Linked DNA regions of Homo sapiens: region 2 is linked to region 1. Evidence: fine-mapped expression QTL. Tissue or cell type: subcutaneous fat. Region 1 holds a variant in brackets; the other region holds the start of a gene. All regions are shown on one strand. Distances are between the middles of the regions.

What was found. PIP is the estimated chance that this variant, and not a neighbour inherited with it, causes the effect.
Region 2: KLHDC4 starts here. The variant in region 1 is fine-mapped to the expression of KLHDC4 in subcutaneous fat (GTEx, PIP 0.91).

The regions. Positions count from the first base shown.
Region 1 is chr16:87,693,682-87,701,755 of GRCh38, reverse strand. It overlaps JPH3 (junctophilin 3), which reads right to left. Exons shown (of 5, transcript NM_020655.4): 5 at 3,600-5,176. The coding sequence ends at 5,096. LOC100129215 (a long non-coding RNA gene) reads left to right here and starts at 5,615. Exons shown (of 1, transcript XR_109334.3): 1 at 5,615-7,119. It also overlaps a transcript of KLHDC4 not described here. RefSeq lists enhancers at 1-45, 3,072-3,131. The variant C/G (reference allele first, on the strand shown) is at 3,253.
Region 2 is chr16:87,761,953-87,770,026 of GRCh38, reverse strand. It overlaps KLHDC4 (kelch domain containing 4), which reads left to right and starts at 4,041. Exons shown (of 12, transcript NM_017566.4): 1 at 4,041-4,235; 2 at 7,987-8,074. The coding sequence starts at 4,137. It overlaps LOC105371399 (a long non-coding RNA gene), which reads right to left and starts at 3,986. Exons shown (of 3, transcript XR_933871.3): 1 at 3,686-3,986. LOC102724467 (a long non-coding RNA gene) reads left to right here. Exons shown (of 4, transcript NR_120309.1): 4 at 3,603-3,696. RefSeq lists enhancers at 3,946-4,005, 4,086-4,145, 4,129-4,753, 7,586-7,655.

The DNA.
Region 1 (8,074 bases):
AGGACGGGCGGGCGGCATAGGCCTGAGCAGGTGGCATGGGCGCACGAGAAGGGTGTGTCTGAGACAGGATGTTTATCCCAAATGCCAGGAGTGGACGAGGCGGACGAGTGGCAGTGAGGTAGGCATGTGAGGTTGTTGCCTGGCCCACTCTGCCGACCCCAGAAACCCAGCGGCCTGGGCCCAGCACCCGGCTACACATGGGGTGAGCTCACGCCCACACTGTGGCCTGTGCCCGTCACGGGGCTGCTTGCTTCTCCTAGGCTTGGGAACAAGCTGGCATGAACGCTGTGGCCGCATTCACAGCTCAGGCACTTCCACTTTGGGTTTCATGAAGAAACAGACTTAAAGAGCATTTGTTCCTAATGGGTGGGCTGAAGCTTGGGAGGAGCATTCAGCTTCTCTCCACAGTATGGCTTCACCTGTTCCTGAGCGCCCTGCTACCCTCTTGCTAACCTGGGTGGCTGAGGTCCTCTGCTTTGGTGGCGTTGACTTCCCGTCTGCAGCCAGCGCCAGGTGCCAGCCCCCGCCTCTGCTCATCGGGAAGCGCTGGCCTGCAGGTGCTTTGTGGTTGCCACGGACCCTTGTTCTGTCCCTTTCCAGCACCCACCCCCCACGCGCTGTGCATTCCGTAGTTCATTTTCAAGGCAGGGGGCACATGGTGAAAATACAGCCTGGCTTTTTTTCAACAAATGCAGCTGCACTCTTCCTTGCTTGTTTTGAAGGCTGAGCCAGCAACCTCCTTGGCACCTGGGGACAGTCGCTTCCTCAGTTTCTGCGTACCGACTGCCTCACCTGACACGCGGCCTGGGCGCGAGAGAAGCCAACCAGGTGCCTGAGTTGACTGACTCCTTCCGCCCTCCAGCTTCCTCCCTCCGCCCTCCAACCTCCTCCCTCCACCCTCCAACCTCCTCCCTCCGCCCTCCAACCTCCTCCCTCTGCCCTGCAACCTCCTCCCCTCTGCCCTCCAACCTCCTCCCTCCGCCCTCCAATCTCCTCCCTCTGCCCTGCATCCTCCTCCCCTCCGCCCTCCAACCTCCTCCCTCCGCCCTCCAACCTCCTCCCTCCGCCCTCCAACCTCCTCCCTCCGCCCTCTGCCCTCCTCCCTCTGCCCTCCAGCGTTCTCCCTCCTCCCTCCACCCTGTTTCCTCCCTCCACCTCTTCTCTCCTCCCTCCACCCTCTTCCTTCTACCCTCTTCCCTCTGCCCTCTTCTTCTGCCCTCCTCCCTCCACCCTCTTTCCTCCCTCCTCCCTCCACCCTCTGCCCTCCTCCCTCTACCCCCTGCCCTCCTCCCTCCGCCTTATCTGGAATCGGGGTCTTGGTCCTGGGCTGGAGGCAGACCCTGGCCCGGGCGAGGTTAAAGGTACTGCAGGAGGGCGGCATCATGATGTCCTGAAGCTTGTTGCGCCCGGTGCTGTCGGCCGGCTGAAGGCAGAAACAGTCACAGCACCTGCAGCTATGGAAGGCGACGACTGAAAATCTAATAGGCACCTTGATGTCAAGTTTCCAAGACCAAAGGCAAGAACAGTCAGATCAAACTTCGGAAGAGTCAGAGAAAGTGAGCATGACCTAGAGGAGGGAGACGGTCCTTCCGCTGTCTCCTGCAGAGCGTCTGTCGCACGTATGAGGTGAAATCCGCACTGTCCCATGAAGACTGTGAGGGGAGTTGCCACCCGCACACGGCCCAGGAGCGCCAGCAGCTTGGGGACCACCACAGGCCTCAGGGTCTCTTCAGTCCGACGGGTCCAGCTGTCGATAAAACCTCCCGGGGAAGGAGTAAAGGACAACCAAGAACCTGAACTGCAAAAGTATGAAAAACATTTCATTTCCCTCGAGTTCTCCACACTTTAGGTCTGCAGCGCCTTGGGGGTGACTGATGGCCCTCCGTGAGACGCGGTGGCCATGTGCTTCTACAAGTGAAAAGGAGCAAGTGTGGTTAGAGCCTGGAGTATGGACGTCCCGGGGACCGCTGGCCCATGGCCTGGCTTGGGGCCTTACAGGGGAGCGAGCTGAGTGAATGCAGGGGAGGGCCCGTCTTTCTACAGTGTGTATCTTGTTTTTGAGACAGACTCACTCTGTCGTCCAGGCTGGAGTGCAGTGGCGCGATCTCTGCTCACTGCAACCTCTGCCTCCCGGGTTCAAGCGATTCTCCTGCCTCAGCCTCCTCAGTAGCTGGGATTACAGGCACCTGCCACCACGCCTGGCTAATTTTTGTATTTTTTTTTTAGTAGAGATGGGGTTTCACTATGTTGGTCAGGCTGGCCTCGAGCTCCTGACCTCAGGTGATCCACCTGCCTTGGCCTCCCAAAGTGCTGGGATTACAGGCATGAGCCACCGCGCCCGGCCCTGCCCTGCTTTTCTACATCACCACTGTCTTGTCAGTTAGCTCGGCTCAGGCATTGCATGCCTGATCTGTATCTTTGGGAATCCTGTGAGGTAATGGTTCTAGATCCAAAAGAATGGATAAAGAGACTGTTTCAGTTCCCGAAATTATCCAGGCACATTCTGTGCGCTACTGAACTTCAGAAAGCACCAGTCCATCCAGTGTGCAGAGGCTGGTAAGTAAAACAGGCCAGCCGTGGGCACAGACAGTTTCACCAGAGGCCCCGGGGCAGAGGGTCTTCTCCAGCTCTTCCAGGGCGGGGCTCATCTGTTCCTGGGCCAGAGGTGGACCTGTCTGCAGGCTTGTAAGGGTGGGGAGACGCCAGCCTGGCCCATGGGCTGTCCACACCCACCCCCCGCAGACCGCGCTGCTGTCTGCAGGGGATGCCACCACTTCCTCCTGGCCTCGGGTGCACAGGTGAAACATGAAGAAGCTATTGGGGCGGAAAATGGCTCTCACCAGGCTGCTCTCGGGTTAATGAAAACTCGTCAAATTCTCCATGCAGCAGCAGCCAGCCGGGCACATGCTGTCCTGCCCTGCCCGACTGTGTGCAGGGAAGCAGGTCCCCTGGGCCTGGGCGGAGGGACTGCGTGCCTGTCAGGGAAGGCCGAGGCTCCGGACAGGCGGGAAGCAGCCTTCTGCTTAATCACCCCATGTGGAAACCAATTAAAGATTCGATTCTCTCAGACCCGGGGCATTTTAGCCTTGGTTGAATCCTCCTGGAATTCACAGGGAAGTGGCTTTGCCCTCTGCCCTCGCTGCTGGAAGGCAAGGGGCCGTTCTCGCCTTGGTTTTCTAGGTTGTGTTGCGGCAGGAGCTGACTGCCCCTAGGCCTAGATCTCTGCACAACTTCGCTCAGGGACACCTGCCT[C/G]TGTGCATGTCTCATGGTGTGAATGTGTTTCCTGCTCACAGGTACCGTTTTGTGTCATGCAGTTACTGGAATGTACAAAAGCAGCTGTGATCTTTGTGAGAGCTGCACAGAGCAGGAGTCTGAGAGCTGCACAGAGCAGGAGTCTTTATTTGGTTCACTTCTGGTCTGCAGCAACCACTTGCTACTAAAAGATGGAAAAGATGTACAAAAATGTCACAGCCCTTTAGAAAGCGACATTATCAGAAATGTATGACCTTCAGTCCTCCCTCCCTCTCCTATGCCCCCACCAGACCAGGCGGCGAGAAGGAACAGGGAGTGAACATGTAACGGAAAACAATAAAACTGAATTTAACTGGAACATGCTCTAATCTTTAGTTTATTTCTGGTTAAAAATATAGCAATCCAGTGCAGTGTAGTAAAGAAGTCTGCTCGAAAGGTAGCAGAGAAACAGCTAAACATAAGCAAAGCAAGGCAGAGTCCATAAGACGGGCTGGCCCCAAGACGACCGGATGGGGAATCCCTGCAGCGCCTCCCCGGGCACAGGGGTCCTGCGTATGGCCGTGCCCGGACCCCTCAGGCACGTCCATGCACACGAGAGCCAGGGCCAGGGGGCACTCGGACATCCTGGCAAACCTTGTTCTTTTGTTTGGGTGATGGAGCGACCCTGGTGGAGAAGGCAGAAACATAAGGAACCTGTTTTTGTTGGACTGAACAAGTTACATTGTACATTTTAGGGGGCTGGATATGCTACAGTTTCTCAGGAAGTTTCAAGCCACTGGGTTTGAACCGCATTCCTGTCCTGGGACCAGGCCCACTGTGGTGTAGCACTGAGGCATCTGGAAGGAATATGCATATCTGTTAGGGGAAGTTGAGGCAGGCACAGTACAGAGATGTGAAAACCCGTGGAGATCAGTAACCATGGGAGAAGGCGTCCTCTAGGGCCCTCACTGCTGGGGACACGGAACCCCACGCGTCCACCCTGCACGCCAAGCGCACACACCCAGAGCCCCGGCGCGAGCCCAGCTCCACGGCACAGCCCCCTTGGCTTCCGTGCTTAGCTGAGCCCAGGCGGATCGGAGTGGGCCCCGGCTTCCCTGGGGTCTGGTGGGGGAAACAGCCGAATGGGACCCACAGTGAGTGGGCAGCAGAAGAAAAGGGCTTTGCTTTAAAACTCGGTGTGGGGAGTCGGCTTCTCATGGAAGGCCGGGGGCAGTGCCGAGAAGAGGGAAGGACCTGCATCCGTCTCACAGGGAGGAGGTGGCCGATCCCTCCCCCTCCCTCAGGTGTGCAGCACAGATCTCACACAGAAAAAGGCCAGGCTACTGCCCACTGGGGTGGGCCACCCTGCCCCATGCCTCCTGCCCATACTTGTCACCCGTCTGTTCTAGACAGAGAAAGCAGTGAATCCACTTTCTAAGCTCGTGTCGACGGGAGTCAGCCCTGCCACTCAGGGGCCGCGGGGCTGAGGCTCTGCCCCGGGCTGCCCTCCATCCACACCCAAGACGGGACGTGTGACCACGAGGACAACGTCCGCTGTTACCACTGATGTGCCGGGATCCCTTCTGTCTCCACGTGGAGCTGGAGGGGCTGCGTGCTGGCCTCCTTCTGCCATGCCACACAGCAGAGTGTTATACAAGCAAAGAATTTTGGCTAAAATCCAAAAAACATTACCCAGAAAAAAAGGCAAACTGTGAGTGATACCCAATCGTGTGGTTCTTCTGTGAGAGGACTTGGAAGTCGCTGGGCTGTCCGAGTTGCGGTCTTTCCCTTCTTGTGGTTTTGCTTTTAATTTTAATGTCCCTTTTTTCTACCCTTTCTCTATTTTTGCTACCGCGACATCTCATCAGATGAAAAAGTTAATAAACAGAATGGCGACTCCGATGTTGAGCAAGATCACCATGACCACCAGGATAGGCGCTGAGCCCTGGAAGAGAGCGAGGGGAAGAGGTGAGCGACAGCTGCGGGGGGCTCTGCCTGGGCCACCACGCCTCCCACCCACGTCTTTTCACCAAGCTAGCAGACCCTCGGGGGTGGAAGCGTACGGGAGGATGTTAGAAACGCTTGGACACCAAAGGCCCACCAGAACCTGAGCTCCGTGAAGTCCAGACGCGGGAGAGAAGCCCCAGCTGCCTGTACGTCTGAGGTTGCTGGTCCTGGAATTCCCTTGGAATTCCCTTGTGGCCCCGACACCCTGAGTACCAGCTCTCCCAGGGTCCCCTTGGAGAGAACCACCCAGGCCTCCCTGCAAGCAAACGTCTCGGTGCGTGTGGCCTTTGTGCCAGTCAGCAGGCTTCTCCTGCCCTGTGGAACTGGGACCTCAGAATCTCAGAAGGGCCCGCATGGCTGCCATGGCCAGTGTCAGATGCAGCCCAGCAGAGAGGCCCTGGAACTCAGAGGACTCCCAAAGTCCGTGAGCACAGTGTCCTCAACAAAACCCCCCCTCACCACACCTTCCTCAACAAACCCCTCACGCCAACTGGCTCTGGAGGACTGTGTCCAATTGCGAGCTGCCTTGGATTTAGGTTATGGTCCTGAATGCTGCTGCCACCACCTCCCTGAAGTGGCTCACAAGTCCTCAGCCTCCGCCGGAGCCCCAAGTGCCAGACTCCCCCTTCAGCCGCACAGCCTGGGCACTCGGACCAAGCTGCCACCTTCCCTGTGCTTGCCGGGGCCAGGTAGGACACGTCTCACAACAGAGCCTTTTCCGGGGGCGCCCTTCTGCAGTGATTCTTGCAGTCCTGCACTCTGCTGTGTTCTGCTCACACCAGGCAGGGGGAGAGGGAGCGTGGCCCCTCTGGGAAGCTCCCAGGACGGCAGGGGTGGGTGCTGCCCTACAGATACAGTACCTGCTGCACAGGGAATGGACGCCTCCTGGACGGTGGCCCCAGCCCAGGAATGGCTGGGACACCCACTCCAGTCTTGCCCACAGTCTGCTTCCAGAGGACACTTGCCCCTGCCTCTCCCCACCCCCACCACGCCCTGCATCTCGCAGCCACCTGGAAGGAGATGTAGACCCCACTGTGGTAAGGAGCTGTTCAGAGCCCCCGGAGCCCTCCACTTCCTACCACGCAGACATCCTGCTGCTGTGCGACACAGATGGACCAGGGCTTGTCCTGAAGGTCCCAGGATGCACATTCCTCAGGGATGGCTACTCTCCTCCCCCTCCCTGTTAACAGACTGGTTTTCCATGGACTCCTTTAAGCCCCCAAGTCTGGCCTCTGGTCAAATTTCAAAGACATGATGGGGTGGTCTGTTAAGACTGAGTAGCTCATGTGGCACCAGGTGAGGGCTGCTCAGGCCTGCATTAAGGAGGGGAGCCCGAACAACGGGCCTCCCCCTTCCCCCCACCCACAACGAAGCAGCTGCTGCTGGCTCCTCTCCCAGAGACTGGAAGAGAATTGATGAGAACACCGGGGACCCAGCAGTTCCACTCCCAGGCCTAAATCTAAGAGGGCAAAGTCAAGCCTCCACTCAAAACCTTGTGTGTGCACACACTCCCGGCAGCAGGATTCACAACAGCCACGGAGTGGAAGCAGAGCCAGCTGTCCAGTGGAGGATGAACACACAGCGGGGAAGACATGGGCCGTGCAACCGCGGCTGCCACAGAGAAAGCGCAGGAGCAGTGCATGCTGCGTGAGAAGCTGGGCACCAGGCAGAAAGCAGAGTCCGGGAGCTGGGGGAGGAGGGGACAGCAAGTGCCTGCTCAATGGCCCTGAGGTTTAAGGTGATGGAGCTGATCTAGATAGAATTGGGGGTGATGGCTGTATAACTGGGAATACACTAAAATCCCTGACTTGTACACTGTGGCCACCTGAAGTGAACAGTACACGCTTTCTGTCTCAGTAAAGCTACGCAAAGAACAGCAGACATCCCGCATGAAGTCAGCTCTCCAGGGCCGCACCATGGGAGCTATGGGCTGGCAGTGGCCGGCTCTGCTCTTGACACACAGGAAGGATGCAAACTCAGAGCCCCAGTGGGGTCACGGCCTTGCCCGGAGAACTCCCTCTGGGGATGGCAGCCTGCCGTCCCCTTGCCTAGCCTGGATGCCACATCCCGCGGCAGCGAAGCAGCCTCCTGCTTGACCGTCTGGCCCGGGGACCCTTTTGTCTCCTGGGTCAGTTTCATTCTTTCCCCAGGCTGTGCTCCTGATGAAGCAGCATCGTAGCTGATGTTGAAGGGCCTCACGCCAGCACCTAGGCTGGTCTTCCCTGGGTGCCTGCTTGAGCACGTGGCCCAAAACAGCCGTTGCATGGGGCACTCAGAACCCACCACACCCTCGCCCCTTCCCAGCCCGCCACCCTGTGGCTGAGGCCCTGTGCCTTGAGCAAGCTGCTGCCCCTCCTCCTCCTGGTCCAGTTCTGCCCACACCTGGGTGCCCACCTCCCCTCCCTGTGGTCTCCAGGAGCTGCCCCCAACATGCCCTGGGCAGCAGTGCTCATCGTAGCCCCGTCTGTGGCCTGGACAGGCTCTGACCACTCCTGCGTTGGCACAGCTTCCTCGGGAGGCTCCTGCCAACACCACTCGGCACGGTGGGCTCAACACGGCAGCGGCAACGGGTGGGAGTACTTGCCTCTGCCTGGCCCGAATGGCGGTTTTCCATTTGGATTTGGGGATGAGCAGCCAATGAGCCTATCTCATTCCCGTTAACGTGAGAGAAACATCCAGACGCTATCCTCAGGTCTCACACACCCCCGCCGTGCTCTGCACCACACCTGGCAGGGGCACCCCCGACTGTATGCTGGGCATCAGCTCCCAGGCCCGAGCGCCTCACCTCACACTGGGGATTGGAGCCCTCAGGCCCTAGAGACACTGGCTTGAGAAA
Region 2 (8,074 bases), 68 kb before region 1:
CTGGGTGACAGAGTGAGACTCTGTCTCAAAAAAAAAAAAAAAAAGCCTTTGTGTTTTGCTTTTTTACTTCCCTAAGCTTTATTTTATTTATTTTTAATTTTTATTTTTTGAGACGGAGTCTCACTCTGTCGCCCAGGCTGGAGTGCAATGGTGCGATCTTGGCTCACTGCAAGCTCCGCCTCCCGGGTTCACGCCATTCTCCTGCCTCAGCTTCCCGAGTACTGGGACTACAGGCGCCCGCCACCGCGCCCGGCTAATTTTTTGTATTTTTAGTAGAGACGGGGTTTCACCGTGTTAGCCAGGATGGTCTTGATCTCCTGACCTCGTGATCCACCCGCCTCAGCCTCCCAAAGTGCTGGGATTACAGGCGTGAGCCACCGCGCCTGGCCTCTTTCCTAAGCTTTATTATTGTTTCACTTGATTTTCCCAAGAATCCTGTGTAATAGGTGAACTAGTTCATTATTCCCACTTTCCTGCTGGGAAACGTGCAAAGAGCCACGTAATCCATACCACACTTGGCAGAACCTTCCAATCACATTGATTACTTGTGGTGAGGATAATTAGAAGTTAGCATATTTTCCTAAAATTTAATCTATTATTAATAGATTTTTTTTCTCTTCTGCACTTCAACTTGAAGGCAGCAGAGGGCGCCTGATCACACAAAAGATACACTCTAAAAGTCAGCGACAGATTAAAGATAATCCATGAAAGTTTCAACAATGTGAATTTTACTAAAATAGAGCCTTGTACTTAATCTTTTGACTATTTTAGGATCTGATCTCATTTTAGATGTTCTATTCCGTCTTTCTCAGTATGAGAATTTCAGTCTCACGTAAATCACCATGACACCTATAATCCAAGAGCCTTCTAATTTAGCTTCAAGCTTCTTTCAGATAATAAAAGTATTAAACCCCGCATCCACCAGATCCTCCTAAATCTTCAATAGGTCATACGCTCTCCCTGTCTCCGGCCTGAAGTGGGCACCACTGTAATGTACTGCAGCCAGATGTGCTGTGAATGAAGAGCCTTTTGGCTTCAAGTGCATTGCCTCAGGTTTACCCAGGATTTTTAGAAAAATATTAAAGGATTACGTATGTTCTTAAAGTCATAGTACACTAGAGGGGACAGAACTATTTCCCGAGGGCAATAGTGAGGATTTAGCCTTTTGTAGTTCGTCATGGAAGATAAACATGCCTGGATGCCCAGGCTGGGTTTCTGTGAAATTCTCCAGCTCCTTTCTGCTCAGCTCCTAACCGGTTTTTTTTTTCTACCACCACATAGGTTTCCTACAAGCAGTGCTGGAGACCATGGTGGTCTTCAACCAGTGCTATCTTTTCTTCTCATTATTTCCCCAAATTTCATTTTTCTTCTTAAAGAGCTAGGTTTATGGATAAGGCTTGGAGTGGGTTGGAAAATCATTCCTCCTCAGCTGCTCAGTGACTAGTCATTGATTGGATCTAAGGTAACTTTTTTTGTTTTTGAGACAGAGTTTCGCTTTTGCTGCCCAGGCTGGAGTGCAATGGCGTGATCTGGGCTCACCGCAACCTTTCCTCCCGGTTCAAGCAATTCTCCTACCTCAGCCTCCTGAGTAGCTGGGATTAAAGGTGCACACCACCACACCTGGCTAATTTTTTTGTATTTTTGTAGAGACGGGGTTTCACCATGTTGGCCAGGCTGGTTTTGAACTCCTGACCTCGTGATCTGCCCACCTTGGCCTCCCAAAGTGCTGGGATTACAGATGTGAGCCACTACGCCTGGCCGAGTTAACTTCTTCTTTTTTTTTTTTTTTTTGAGACGGAGTCTAGCTCTGTTGCCCAGGCTGGAGTGCAGTGGTTCAGTCTCGGCTCACTGCAACCTCTGTCTCCCAGGCTCAAGCCATTCTCCTGACTCAGCCTCCCGAGTAGCTGGGATTACAGGTGCGCACCACCATGCCTGTCTAATTTTGTATTTTTAGTGGAGATGGGGTTTCACCATGTTGATCAGGCTGGTCTCAAACTCCTGACCTCAGGTGATCTGCCTGCCTCTGCCTCTCAAAGTGCTAGGATTACAGGCGTGAGCCATCACACCTGGCTGGATCTAAGATAACATCTTTTTTTTTTTTTTTTTTTGAGATGGAGTCTTGCTTTGTCGCCCAGGCTGGAGTGCAGTGGTGCAATCTCCGCTCACTGCAACCTCTGCCGCCTAGGTTCAAATGATTCTTTTGCCTCAGCCTCCTGAATAGTTGGGACTACAGGTGGGTGCCACCACACCTGGCTAATTTTTTTTTTTTTTTTTGTATTTTTAGTGGAGACAGGGTTTCACCATATTGGCCAGGCTGGTCTTGAACTCCTGACCTCGTGATCAGCCCGCTTCAGCCTCCCAAAGTGCTGGGATTACAGGAATGAACCACCACGCCTGGCCTAAGAGAACTTTTAAAGGCTGACTCACACACAAAGTAATAAACTAGATTATTTCCTGATTTATGCTTTCCCTTTGCCAAATTTTGGCTTGTCCTTGTCCTTAATTTGCCTTATTCCTTGATTACCCATCCAAAGATGACATCTTCTAAGTAGTGATAAGCATTTTTACTCTGCTCTTTCAAATCATAACATTCCATGCACTGCAGATGATTTTGCCATTTCTTACGTAATTTGAGGCAAATCCTAGAGTACAATTTCCTAGCAGGCATTTGGATATTACCTATCTTTATTTCTCAGGCTCCACAAATTGAGTACCCTTTCAGGGTGCTATCATTAGCTCTAGCCTACCTATGAAGAAACAAAAGTCCTCCATGTTAGGACATTTGAGGACATGCCCTTAGTACCTAACAGTGTCTGGCACATTTTAAATGGGAAGGTGGAAGGGCCCCCCCATTTTTTTTTTTTTTTAAGATGGAATTTTGCTCTTTTGCCCAAGCTGGAGTGAAGTGGCTTGATCTCAGCTCATTGCAACCTCTGCCCCCTGGGTTCAAGCAATTCTCCTGCCTCAGCCTCCCAAGTAGCTGGGATTACAGGTGCCCACCACCACGCCTGGCTAATTTTTGTAGTTTTAGTAGAGACGGGGGTTTCACCATGTTGGCTAGGCTGGTCTCGAACTCCTGACCTCGTGATCCACTCACCTCGGCCTCCCAAAGTGCTGGGATTACAGGCGTGAGCCACCGCGCCCGGCAGGGACTGTCTTACTCAGGATCTGCAAAATCTTATAACTGTGTGAAATTTTTTTTCTGGGAAAAAAGCACTCATTTGTTTGGTCTGAGGGGAAAAAATGGGGCTAGCCCAAGAGTCGCCCACTTAGTTCTACCCAGGGCGAAGCAATGTGCCTTAACGGGGGGCACGTGCACCCCGGAAAACTCAAGAGAAAATGAGCCGGGCGTGGTGGGCTCCTGTGGTCCCAGCTACTCCAGAGGCGGAGGTTACAGCGAGCCGAGATCGCGCTACCGCACTCCAGCCTGGGCGACAGAGCAAGACCCTGCCTCAAAAAAATAGAAATAAAAAATAAAACTCAGAGGGCACGTCTCCTAGGACACGGGGACAGGCTAGGTGGGGGCACAGGGCGTGAGAATTGGCGAGCATGGCCGGGGTATGTCAGGCCGGGGCTGCCATCTTTTTTGTTTTTTGAAACAGGATCTCGCTCTGTCGCCCAGGTTGGGGTGCAGGGGCGCATTGCTGCCTGGAACTCCTTGACTCAAGCGATCTTCCCGCCTCACCTTCCCGAGGAGCTAGGACCACTGGGCGCGAGACACCACGCCCGGTTAATTTTTTTTTTTTTCTTCTGTAGCGACTGGGGGTGGGGGGTGGTGTCTCGCTTTGTTGCCCAGGCTGATCTCGAACTCCTGGACTCAAGCGATCCGCCCGCCAAGGCCTCCCAAAGCTCCAGGGTTACAGGCATGAGCCACCGCGCCCAGCCCGGGGCCGGTCATCTTTTCCGGGGCCTTATGCAGAGTCCGAGGCCCCCGAGCCCGCTGCCGAAGACGGAGCTCCAAGACCGAACCTCGTAAAGGGCCCAGCCGCACCTCTACCCGGAAGCGGCTCGAACTCGGGGCCGGAAGTGACTCCATTTCTGTGCGCCGAGCTCCGCCCCACGAGCACCTGTTTCCGAGCGGAGAGCGCGGGCCGTTTTCTTTCCTGGTGTCCCGTCGCGGCTTGGGACCCGGCAAGATGGGCAAGAAGGGCAAGAAGGAGAAGAAGGGCCGCGGCGCGGAGAAGACGGCCGCCAAGATGGAGAAGAAGGTGTCTAAGCGCTCGCGGAAGGAGGAGGTGAGCGGGTCAGACCGGGCTTAGCGGCCCGACGTCGCGGCCGTGCAGCCTCGGCCGACTCCCTGCGCCCCCCGGGGTTACGGGTCGGCCGTGGGAGCCGCGCCGGCCCTGCGGGAGAGCTGGAGGCCGTAGGAACTGCCCCGGCGCCGCGTCCGGGCAGCCCAGACGGGGCCCGCCCCCTCCTGAGTCTCCACGTGTGTCTGTCCGCTTCTCGGAGCTGCCCCCTTTAACGTGCTTGCTTTTCTTAGTGTGGTGTCACGGGCGTTTTTCTGCGTTTCCTCCCCCTCCTCCCTTCTCCCTCCACCCTCCCTCTGAAGGGAGGCTGGGTGGTGAGAAGAGGGAGGGGTTTGGCACAGGAAGACCTGAGGTTGAGCCGGGGGCTGCCTCTGCATGATGTGTGGTCTGGGAGTAAGACTCTTAACTTTTCTGAACCTTACTTTTCTTTCAAAAGAGGGCAAATAATCATCACAGCAGCCCTGAGCAGTGAGCAGCAGATGGTTAAGTGAAGAAGGCACTGGAGCCACGGGGTATCCCGTAGCAGCTGATGGCGGCCATCACGGTTGTCTCCTTCCCTCTGGTCCTCAGCCCGGGGTCTGCAGGAGGATCCGTCCTGACCTTGGGGTTGAGTGTTCTGCGGCTGCTGCTCATGGATTCCCTAACCGGGGCCAGTTTTATGGCCTGCCGTGCGCCAGGCACAGCTCCCTGGGCTTTACTCCTCACGAGCAGGTCAGTTCCGTAGCACTGGTATTCCCATTTGACAGGAAGACCAACAGGTGAACCATGAAGTGGTATGGAACTGGGATGTGACCAGATGTCCTGAATCAGGAGCTCTTGACCACAGTCCTTTGTCCCTTTTCTTCCTAAGTCATTGATCTCTCCATGTCCTCATCTCTTAAATAATGGAGTTGGACTTTTCCCTCACACTCCTCTTAGGCTCTTTCTTTTTTTTTTTTTTTTTTTTGACAGAGTCTTGCTCTGTCACCTAGGCTGGGCTGCAGTGGCATGACCTGCTGGCTAGGGTTGTGGCACAGGAAGTCAGTTCATCTGTGTGGTATCTTCAGAATGGTGCTTGGCAGAAAGTAAGCACTCAGTAACCAGCTGTTAGCTGCTTTCTGCTTTTTTTTTTTTTTTTTTTTTTTTTTTTTGAAGGAGTTTCACTCTTGTTGCCCAGGGTGGAGTGCAATGGTGCGATCTCAGCTCACTGCACCTCCGCCTCCCAGGTTCAAGTGGTTCTCCTGCCTCAGCCTCCCAAGTAGCTGAGATTACAGGCATGCACCACCACACCCAGCTAATTTTGTATTTTTAATAGAGACCGGGTTTCACCGTTTTGGTCAGGCTGGTCTGGGACTCCTGACCTCAGGTGATGCGCTCGCCTCGGCCTCCCAAAGTGCTGGGATTACAAGCCGTAAGCCACCTTGCCCCGCCAGTTACCTGTCATTTTTACTCATCTCCATGTCTCCCTCCAGTACCCAATACTAAGGTGATTGTAACAGTAGCTTCCCTTAAGAGAGAGAGCCTGTCAGGCCTGGGGTTTGTATGTTATCTGAATGAACCCTCAAAACAAACTTTTAAAATAAGTGGGCGTCTGATTAGGCTAGACCCACAGAGGATCATCTCTTTCTTAAATTCAGCTGTGTCTGTAATACAACCTAATCACAAGAGTGGTATCCCATTCTTTCACAGTCCTGGCAATTATTGGGGGAAGGATTGGGGACAGTTTGGAATTCTGCTCCCACAGAACTCATGTATCAGGTCACCTGGTTCGCACCTTCACTTAGTCCTGGCCTCTGCCTGTCTTTCCAGCTGTCTCCCTGGGCTCACTCCAGCCACAGTGTCTTTTAGTGTCTCAAACATGGCAAGTTGTGTCTGTGGTCTTACCTATACCCCAACCATACTCCGTCTGAGTCGTCTTTTCAGCATTCAGCTTATTGTCACTTTGGAGAGGCTGTCACTGGCTAGGCCACTGGCGTCACCCAGACCCTACCACCTTGCTCTCCTTCAGTCACCCAATGATGATGAGGTTCAGCCAAGGTCAAAGACCGCTCTAAGTAGCAGCAGCAAAGCTTTCGCGGTACATAGACGTTAGTATTTGAACTGTTTGTTTAACCTCGTTGAGCAAAAAAAGCAAGTTGAAAGAATATACAGTATGATACCATTTAATGACATTTTATTTTTTATTTTTTTTGAGATGGAGTCCTGCTCTGTCACCCAGAGCAAGTGTCGCAGTGGCATGATCTCAGCTCATTGCAACCTCTGCCTCCCAGGCTCAAGCAATTCTCCTGCCTCAGCCTCCCGAGTAGTTTGGGACTACAGGTGTGCGCCACTGTGGCCGGCTAATTTTTGTATTTTTTAGTAGAGACGGGGTTTCACCGTGTTGGTCAGGCTGGTCTCGAACTCCTGACCTCAAATTATCCACCTGCCTCGGCCTCCCAAAGTTCGGGGATTACAGGCGTGAGCCACTGTGCCCAGTCCATTTAATGACATTTAAAAATGTAAAACAATACTATATGTTGCTTAGGGATACACATGTGTAATAAAAGATTGAAGAAAAGCGTGAGACTAATAAGCATCGAGTTCCAGATAGTGGTTACTTGAGGGAATGTGTGGGTGGGTACATGTGGGTGACACTTTATTCCTTACCCTGGGAACCGTATACAGGAATGTCTTGGATAAAGTTCTGTTAACTTGTGTGTTTTAAATATTGCATCGTTTAGAATACTAAGCAGTGTACCCTGCTGACATTCACCCTGAGATGAGAGGTAGACTGAAGGAAGCACGAGGTGGGGCGTGGCAGGCTGAGGGAACCTGGCGTTTTCATTGAAGGAACGGAGAGGACGCTGGTGTATCTTGGAGAGTGAGGCCAGGTGGGAGGTGAGGTTGGAGAGGTGGGTGTGGGGGAGGGAAGATGGTCTGCAGGTGTGTGTAGTTGCAAGCAGGACACTGAAGGCTAGAAGGAACTTGAAATGCCAGGCTCGGGTGTGCATGGGAGTGTCTCGTAAATGTTGGGAAATGGGCACTGGGACTGAGGCGGGAACACTGGGTTCCAGTGCTGCCCTCTGTGCTGGCACATCAGTACCTTGAGTCACTCTCGATGGTAGTAAAAGTTGAGACCTTCTTACTTGGATAGACTGCAGCTGGTATTTGCTGAGCTCTTGCTGTGCAGGCAGTGTTTTAACTAGACACAAGTCTTGCTCTGGTGGAGCTCATATTTTATTATTTTGTTGGGGTGGAGGAAACAAATAAGCAAGAGAAATATATCAGACACTGCTCAGCAGACAGGAAGGCAGGCAGGCGTGACGGCCCAGGCCTGGGCTCTGAGAGGTGCTGAGGGTGTCTGCAGTGAAGTCACGATGGGCTTGTCTAAGTGGAAGTTCTTGTCAGACACTGCTCTGCAGACAGGAAGGCTGGCAGGTGCGACGGCTCGAGTCTGGGTTATGAGAGGTGCTGAGAGTGTCTGCAGTGAAGTCACAACGGGCTTGTCTAAGTGGAAGGTCTTGCAGAGGGAGCGTTAAGGGTGTGGAGATAATACTTGGTGCACACATCTACCCTTTAAGCAGACTGCCTTTGAGGTCAAGCTCTGGTTACTTTCGAATGTGTCAAACTCTGCATTTCAAACAGGCACAGTATGTTGCAATTCACAGATGTGACTGAGCCCAGTCGAATCACACTGATTGGAGGAAAGCTGAGCGGGCTGTGGCTCCGCGGCGGGTCCTGGGAATAAGTCTCACGTGTGCCTGCTTGCTTGCCCTAGGAAGACCTGGAAGCGCTCATAGCCCATTTCCAGACACTCGATGCCAAGAGGACTCAGACTGTGGAACTTCCGTGCCCCCCACCCTCAC